Regions from separate parts of the Homo sapiens genome. Here region 2 is reported to be linked to region 1. The links are microRNA targets in miRTarBase. Many come from high-throughput screens and were not tested one by one. Region 1 holds a microRNA gene; the other region holds the end of a gene's coding sequence.
Evidence for each region. Region 1 holds the annotated microRNA hsa-miR-6885-5p (AGGGGGGCACUGCGCAAGCAAAGCC, at 2,466-2,490, opposite strand). A microRNA usually pairs through its seed, bases 2 to 8, with sites in the 3' UTR of a target mRNA and lowers its output. Matches are read on the target gene's strand: a 7mer-m8 pairs with bases 2 to 8, a 7mer-A1 pairs with bases 2 to 7 and ends in A, and an 8mer does both.

Region 1 (4,000 bases):
TTGTGGCCCTAAGGCCTCCTATCTGTTTCCTCCTGAACTGACAGCTCTGAGACGGCCGAGTGGGGTCTGCCCTGGTTACCCCTGAGTCCCCAGCTCCCAGCACAGGGCCTGGTGATATATCCATGGCAAGGCACCCCATTTCCCTCACTTCTGTCCCCAGCCACCACCCAGCCCACTCACCTCTCCCACTCCTCCTCGGCCTCCTCGGCAGTGAGCGTGCGATGCCGGGCCAGCGGTGTGAAATTGTACCAGTTGTGCACGGGGAAGGCCTCGAAGGCCCCGTCGGGGCACTGGGTGAAGATGTAGTAGGACGTGTTCTCTGTTACGCCTCCCTTCTTGATGCCCTTGAACCTGCAGGGAGCCACGGTCATGGCCTGGCCCATAGGGACCAGCCCCAGCCCCCCCGTGTCCCCCCGGGGCCTGCCTCCTTTATGGCACTTGCCATAGGAGGAAGACCAAGAAATGCCCATGAGGCCTGGGCAGGCCCTTCAACCACCTGGGCCTCGTCAATTTCCACATCTGGGGAACAGGGCCGGCGCACCTACCCTGCAAAGTGCTGGGCGTGTGCACATCGGGATCATTTCTGGAAAGACTGTGTGAGATTATCTCAGGAGAGCCCAACCCTGCAGTCAAACTGTCTACATTTGCCTCCAGCTCTGCTATCTGTGGGCCACACCCGGGAAACTGAGGAGCCAAGTGAGAAGATGGGGCGGGAAGGCATGGCCAAATTTTTTTTTTTGAGATGGAGTCTCGCTCTGGCACCCAGGCTGGAGTGCAGTGGCACCATCTCAGCTCACTGCAACCTCCACCTCCCGGGTTCAAGCAATTCTCATGCCTCAGCCTCCCGAGTAGCTGGGATTACAGGTGTCTGCCACCACACCCAGCTAATTTTTGTAGTTTTAGTAGAGACAGGGTTTCACCATGTTGGCCAGGCTAGTTTCGAACCCCTGACCCCACGTAATCCGCCCGCCTCTGCCTCCCAAAGGGCTAGGATTACAGGCGTGAGCCACCGCGCCCAGCCATGGCATGGCCAAATCTGAAGTGGACACCTGGCCCGGGCCACCATTTCCTCAAGCCTAAACAACTGCCCAGCCTCCTTGAGGCCTCTACCTCATTCTTTTCTACCCCAAAGTTCCGGACAGTCTGGGTGAGTGCCTCTTCCCTGCCTACAGCTTTCCAAGGCTCCGCTGGACCCAGCACATCCTGGCACCCACTGCCCTGTGTGAGCTGCCTGTGTCTGTCACTATCACCCAACTGCTGTGCCTGGAGCACCCTTCATCAACCTAACCTGGACCCCTCCTGTTCTGCCCTCAGTCTGCCCCCTCTGAGAGGTCATCTCAAGTGTCATGAGCTCCCAGGGCTGGCCACCTAAGCTTCCTGCATTGTGGCACTCAGAGCTGCCTCAGAGCCAGGCACAAGCACCAACTCAGTGAACTGTCTTCAAAAACACAACCCCAGGGCCTGGGCAGTGGCTCATACCTATAATCCCAGCACTTTGGGAGACCAAGGTAGGAGGATCACTTGACCCCAGGAGTTCAAGACCAGCTTGAGCAACGCAGCAAGACCCCATCTCTACCAAAAATACAAAAATTAGCCAGGCATGGTGGGGCGTGCCTATAGTCCCAGCTACTCAGGATGCTGAGGTGGGAAGATCTCGAGCCCAGGAGTTGGAGCCTGCAGTGAGCTACGATCGCACCACTGCACTCCAGCCTGGGCAACGGAGTGAGACCCTGTCTCAAAATAAATAAGTAGGCTGGGCACGGTGGCTCACGCCTGTAATCCCAGCACTACGGGAGGCCGAGGCGGGAGGATCGCCAAGTTCGAGACCAGCCTGACCAATATGGTGAAACCCTGTCTCTACTAAAAATACAAAAATTAGCTGGGCGTGGTGGTGGCAGGCACCTGTAATCCCAGCTACTCAGGAGGCTCAGGCAGGAGAATAACTTGAACCTGGGAGGTGTGGGTTGCAGTGAGCCAAGATCGTGCTACTGCACTCCAGCCTGGGCGACAGAGCAAGACTCTGTCTCAAAAAAATACAAGTAAGTAAAATAAGATAACATAAATAAATAAATAAATAAATAAATAATAAAATCCTACAGGGATGGAAGTGCCAGCACTTCCACTGCAGCAGTGGGAATCTGAGGTTCAGAGAGGGTACCCCACAAAGTATGTAAGTTGAGGCCTGGGGATGTGGACTGGTCACTAAGCCGGCACCGCCACCGCCCCACCACTTACTTCCTGCCTGATTTGCCGTTGACCCGGAGCAGCCAGGGCTGGTCCTCGGGCCGGAACTCCTTGAGGACGATGCCGTACTTCTTCCTCCGAGCCTCCTCCCGAAGCTTGCGGTTGAACTCACTGCCCGCGCCCGATTCGGGCATCTCCTCCTCTTGGTAGATTTTCTTGTTGCTCAAGTCCCGCTCCAGCCGAGCCTAGGGGAGCAGGAAGCAAAGCCTCTCAGGGTCCCTGGCTTTGCTTGCGCAGTGCCCCCCTCCAGGAACGCCCTTCCTTGCCCTAGGCCAAGCTCTAGATTCTCAAAACCAACTTACCACTTGGCAACAAGGGAGGAGAACGGTAGCCTTTGACAAATCTGGGTAAAGGGAATTTGGGCGAGCCTTGCGCTCTATTTTTGCAACTTAAAAGCTTGAAATTATTTCCAAATTAAAATTAAAGAGAAAAAGACCACCTGGTGACCATCAAGCAGGCCATCGGAGGCAAAATTCCTTATCTGAGGAATGTAGAAGTAATTAATTAGACTTCCCTATTATCTACAGCAGGCATCTGGTTCCAGGATTCTTTTCAAAAAATGTCTAAGTACCTAGAATTTCCACACATCTCTCCAGAATGCATGCATATCGAAACTCATTGTGCTGTGGCTCACACCTGTAATCCCAGAACTTTGGGAGGCCAAGGCAGAAGGATCACTTGAGCTCAGGAGTTTAAGACCAGCCTGGCATCAGAATGGCTTGAACCTGGGAGGCGGAGGTTGCAGTGAGCCGAGATCATGCCACTGCACTCCAGCCTGGGTGATAGAGTGACACTCTGTCTTAAGAAAAAAAAGGCCAGGCGCGGTGGCTCACGCCTGTAATCCCAGCACTTCGGGAGGCCAAGGCAGGTGGATCACGAGGTCAGGAGATTGAGACCATCCTGGCTAACACGGTGAAACCCCGTCTCTACTAAAAATACAAAAAATAAGCCGGGCATGATGGCAGGCGCCTATAATCCCAGCTACTTGGGAGGCTGAGGCAGGAGAATGGCGTGAACCCGGGAGGCGGAGCTTGCAGTGAGCCGAGATCCTGGCGCTGCACTCCAGTCTGGGCGACAAAGCAAGACTCAGTCCCCAAAAAAAAAAAAAAAAAAAAAAAAGACCAGCCTGGGCAACATAGTGAGATCCTATATCTATTTCCTAAAAATAAAAAGGCTGGGCATGGTGGAAGGCTGAGGCGGGTGGATCACTTGAGGTCAGGAGTTCAAGACCAGCCTGACCAACATGGCGAAACTTCGTCTCTACTAAAAATACAAAAATTAGCTAGGCGTGGTGGTGGGCGCCTGTAATCCCAGCTACTTGGGAGGCTGAGGCAGGAGAATGGCTTGAACCTGGGAGGTGGAGGTTGCAGTGAGCCCAGGTCGCGCCACTGCACTCCAGCCTGGATGACAAGAGACTCCATCACAAAAAAATAAAATAAAATAAATAAAAAGAAACTCATTGTGCAACACTTGCTGACATTAAGGCACCAAAATCTCTACAAATTAACAATTTATCGTGACCTACATGGCTAATGTGATCCGAATTACCCTTAAGCTCTTGATTTAAGGTCCATATATACCATTTCCAAAACACTCTAGAATCAGCCACATCTCATAACCTCCACTGCCTCCAGTGCCCTGCCAGGACTCACCTAGACCAGTCCAGTTGCTTCTACCTTGGTCTCCGTTTATTTGCCCTCAAACCCACAGTTTGTCTCCCCATAGCAGCCAGATCACACACACTACAACTTCCCAA
Region 2 (4,523 bases), not on the chromosome of region 1:
AGAAAATTGTGCCATTTTATAATGGAGGCAACTGCGTAACTGATGAGTTTGAAGAAGGCATCCAAGATATCATTCTGAGGCTGACACATGTTAAAACTGGAGGAAAAATCTCCTTGCGGAAAGCAAGGTATCACACTTTAACCAAAATCTGTGCGGTGCAAGAGATAATCGAAGACTGCATGAAAAAGCAGCCTTCCCTGCCGCTTTCCGAGGATGCACATCCTTCCGTTGCCAAAATCAACTTCGTGATGTGTGAGGTGAACAAGGCCCGAGGGGTCCTGATTGCACTTCTGATGGGTGTGAACAACAATGAGACCTGCAGGCACTTATCCTGTGTGCTCTCGGGGCTGATCGCTGACCTGGATGCTCTAGATGTGTGCGGCCGGACAGAAATCAGAAATTATCGGAGGGAGGTAGTAGAAGATATCAACAAATTATTGAAATATCTGGATTTGGAAGAGGAAGCAGACACAACTAAAGCATTTGACCTGAGACAGAATCATTCCATTTTAAAAATAGAAAAGGTCCTCAAGAGAATGAGAGAAATAAAAAATGAACTTCTCCAAGCACAAAACCCTTCTGAATTGTACCTGAGCTCCAAAACAGAATTGCAGGGTTTAATTGGACAGTTGGATGAGGTAAGTCTTGAAAAAAACCCCTGCATCCGGGAAGCCAGGAGAAGAGCAGTGATCGAGGTGCAAACTCTGATCACATATATTGACTTGAAGGAGGCCCTTGAGAAAAGAAAGCTGTTTGCTTGTGAGGAGCACCCATCCCATAAAGCCGTCTGGAACGTCCTTGGAAACTTGTCTGAGATCCAGGGAGAAGTTCTTTCATTTGATGGAAATCGAACCGATAAGAACTACATCCGGCTGGAAGAGCTGCTCACCAAGCAGCTGCTAGCCCTGGATGCTGTTGATCCGCAGGGAGAAGAGAAGTGTAAGGCTGCCAGGAAACAAGCTGTGAGGCTTGCGCAGAATATTCTCAGCTATCTCGACCTGAAATCTGATGAATGGGAGTACTGAAATACCAGAGATCTCACTTTTGATACTGTTTTGCACTTCATATGTGCTTCTATGTATAGAGAGCTTTCAGTTCATTGATTTATACGTGCATATTTCAGTCTCAGTATTTATGATTGAAGCAAATTCTATTCAGTATCTGCTGCTTTTGATGTTGCAAGACAAATATCATTACAGCACGTTAACTTTTCCATTCGGATCATTATCTGTATGATGTGGTGTGGTTTGTTTGGTTTGTCCTTTTTTTTGCGTTTTTAATCAGAAAACAAAATAGAGGCAGCTTTTGTAGATTTTAAATGGGTTGTGCAAGCATTAAAATGCAGGTCTTTCAGAATCTAGAACTAGGCATAACCTTACATAATACTAGGAAAATTATGAGAAAGGGGAAATTTTTGGTTAAATAAGAGTAAGGTTCAAACACAAGCAGTACATGTTCTGTTTCATTATGCTCGATAGAAGGCTTTTTTTTCACTTATAAGGCCTGATTGGTCCTACCCAGCTTAACGGGGTGGGGTTTTTTTGTTTGTTCAGACAGTCTGTTCTTTTGTAAACATTTTTAGTTGGAAAAACAGCATCTGCATTTTCCCCATCCTCTACGTTTTAGAGAGGAATCTTGTTTTTGTGTGCAACATAAGAAAATTATGAAAACTAATAGCCAAAAAACCTTTGAGATTGCATTAAAGAGAAGGGATAAAGGACCAGCAATAATACCTTGTAAGTTGCTTTTGTTTGTAAAATCTGAGCTTATAGTTTTCCTTAGTGAGTAAATTCATAAGGATGGGAACATTTAAATTAAGTTAATGGGCCTTTAAAAAAAAAAAAAGGAAACACTCATACCTGTAGTTGGAGGATGAATACTGGAGACGGGTTACCAATGTCAGGTTATACTAAAACTAAATCAGAAAGTCTGAATGTAGCACATAATGGTTCTCTTCTGTTGTCCAAGGCTGTAAAATGGACAGCCTTGTCACACCTCCCCGGTGCTGTTTTACAACGTGAGGGTAGACGCTGTCAGTAACCCAGAGGGACCAGGCCTTCCTAGGTTTTCTAGGCAGTCAGCTGTTAACCACTCACTTAGTAAATGTCATAACTACACCTGCTCCAGGACCAATCAGTGAAACCTGCTCGGAATTAAAGGCTTCCTCTGGGTGCCTGCTGAACAACTGAGCTCATGTCATGGGCATGTGGTGGTTTCTCTGTTGCCTGAAAGAGCCATTAAAGTCAGTCGTGCGTGAAGCATCTCTCTTCTAAAGGATGTGTATTTCCATAAATGCTTTCTGAGGATCCGGTACAAAATGATTTCCCAAAGTTCTGAAGTGCCTTGAGAACATGTGGGTCCGAGTGTTATAACAGACTCCTCCCCCGGGTCACCTTTTGCCTGGTCATCCTGTTAGAGTACATCTTTGGAAATCCAGGGTAATATTCTCTTTCAGAGATGCTCATTGTGTAACTCTGTGTAGGGAGATAGTCACTTTAAACAGCTCAAAGTAGCTAGCTAAAGGAGTAGCCTTAAATACCTAAAAGATGACAGAAGCATAGCCCTTAACAAATCTTCAGCTTGTCTCTCAGTATTTCCCAATCATGAAAATCCCTTGCTATGTCTTTCCTACTAGAAATGTTCTAGAATCGCTGGACGGTGGGGTCAGAGGGCAGTCGGTATTTAGGCCGTGAGCTTCCCATACTACTGCAGGTCCAACTCCTGGCAACCGCGGGCTCAAGGCAGGTCATTGGAATCCACGTTTTGGCCACAGTAGTTGTAGGATTGCTTTTCTGTATCATAATTTTAGAATGCTCTTAAAATCTTGAGGAAGAGTTTTTATTTTTTATTTATTTTTGAGATGGAGTCTCTGTTGCCCAGGCTGCAGTGCAGTGGTGCCATCTCAGCTCACTGCAACCTCCACCTCCCAGGTTCAAGCGATTCTCCTGCCTCAGCCACCTGAGTAGCTGGGAGTACAGGCATGTGGCACCATGCCTGGCTAATTTTTGTATTTTTAATAGAGTTGAGATTTCACCATGATGGTCAGGCTGGTCTCGAACTCCTGACCTCGTGATCCGCCCGCCTCGGCCCCCCAAAGTGCTGGGATTAACGGGTGTGAGCCACGGCGCCCAGCCCAGGAAGAGTTTTTAAATTAGAGCTCTGTTTAATTATACCACTGGGAAATCATGGTTACGCTTCAGGCATATTCTTCCCCAGAGTACTACTTACATTTTAAATTTCATTTTGTAAAGTTAAATGTCAGCATTCCCTTTAAAAGTGTCCATTGTTCTTTGAAAGTAGACGTTTCAGTCATTCTTTTCAAACAAGTGTTTGTGTACCTTTTGCCAAGCTGTGGGCATCGTGTGTGAGTACAGGGTGCTCAGCTCTTCCACCGTCATTTTGAATTGTTCACATGGGTAATTGGTCATGGAAATGATCAGATTGACCTTGATTGACTGTCAGGCATGGCTTTGTTTCTGGTTTCAATCTGTTCTCGTTCCTTGTACCGGATTATTCTACTCCTGCAATGAACCCTGTTGACACCGGATTTAGCTCTTGTCGGCCTTCGTGGGGAGCTGTTTGTGTTAATATGAGCTACTGCATGTAATTCTTAAACTGGGCTTGTCACATTGTATTGTATTTTTGTGATCTGTAATGAAAAGAATCTGTACTGCAAGTAAAACCTACTCCCCAAAAATGTGTGGCTTTGGGTCTGCATTAAACGCTGTAGTCCATGTTCATGCCAAAAATGGCTGGGAACGTTTGCTTTATTTACATTCAGTCAGCGTTGCTTTCAGATCACACTTTATCCACACAGGAAAGCCAGTCAGCCTATAATGAAGTAGTTATTAAAATAAATGTAATGAATATGTCTACAAAGTATAGTTTAGTGGTTTATTTTGCTAAAATGCACATATATTTGATATAATTTAGTTTGAGAAGTTCAGCTAGTTTTTCTCCTTTGTTTGACTTTGTCAATTTCTATCTGGTTTTTAAGGGTCTGAGCTTAGCTTGTGCATGCAAGGTTTTGGGTTTTTTTATTTTTTTTTTGAGCACAGCTTTTCACCTTTTAATTTGTTGGGTATTTTTCTCTTAATAAGAGAAATATTGGCCATCGATTTTTACATATAATACAAGTGTGTTTTTCCAGTACATTGGTTCCTGTCCCCTCTCTGTGAACTGTTTGAGTATTGGAACAGTATGTCTTCAATAATTCAATGTTACTTTGAGATACATGTGTTAATATACCCTTAGTTATTCTTGAAATAAAACCAGTCTCTTACGCTTGCAGTGGAGAAAGGCTGTGAGTCTGAGGTGTGTGTTCTCTATATATTATCACCTTCATGAACTGTCTGACCTGGGTGCGGAGCCCTTTTTTTTTTTTTTTTTGAGACGGAGTCTGGCTCTGTCACCCAGGCTGGAGTGCAATAGCGCGATCTCGGCTCACTGCAACCTCCGCCTCCCAGGTTCAAGCAATTCTCCTGCCTCAACCTCCCGAGTAGCTGGGATTACAGGTGCCTGCC

Region 2: miRTarBase lists BAG5 as a target of hsa-miR-6885-5p. Seed matches in the 3' UTR shown: 8mer at 3,087-3,094.

The regions. Positions count from the first base shown.
Region 1 is chr19:6,387,209-6,391,208 of GRCh38, forward strand. MIR6885 (microRNA 6885) reads right to left here and starts at 2,495; the gene lies at 2,430-2,495. It overlaps GTF2F1 (general transcription factor IIF subunit 1), which reads right to left. Exons shown (of 13, transcript NM_002096.3): 4 at 2,236-2,429; 5 at 181-351. RefSeq lists an enhancer at 1-324.
Region 2 is chr14:103,556,323-103,560,845 of GRCh38, reverse strand. BAG5 (BAG cochaperone 5) reads left to right here. Exons shown (of 2, transcript NM_001015048.3): 2 at 1-4,295. The coding sequence ends at 1,025. Among named protein-coding and RNA genes, the nearest start is that of BAG5, 4.1 kb to the left of the region's middle.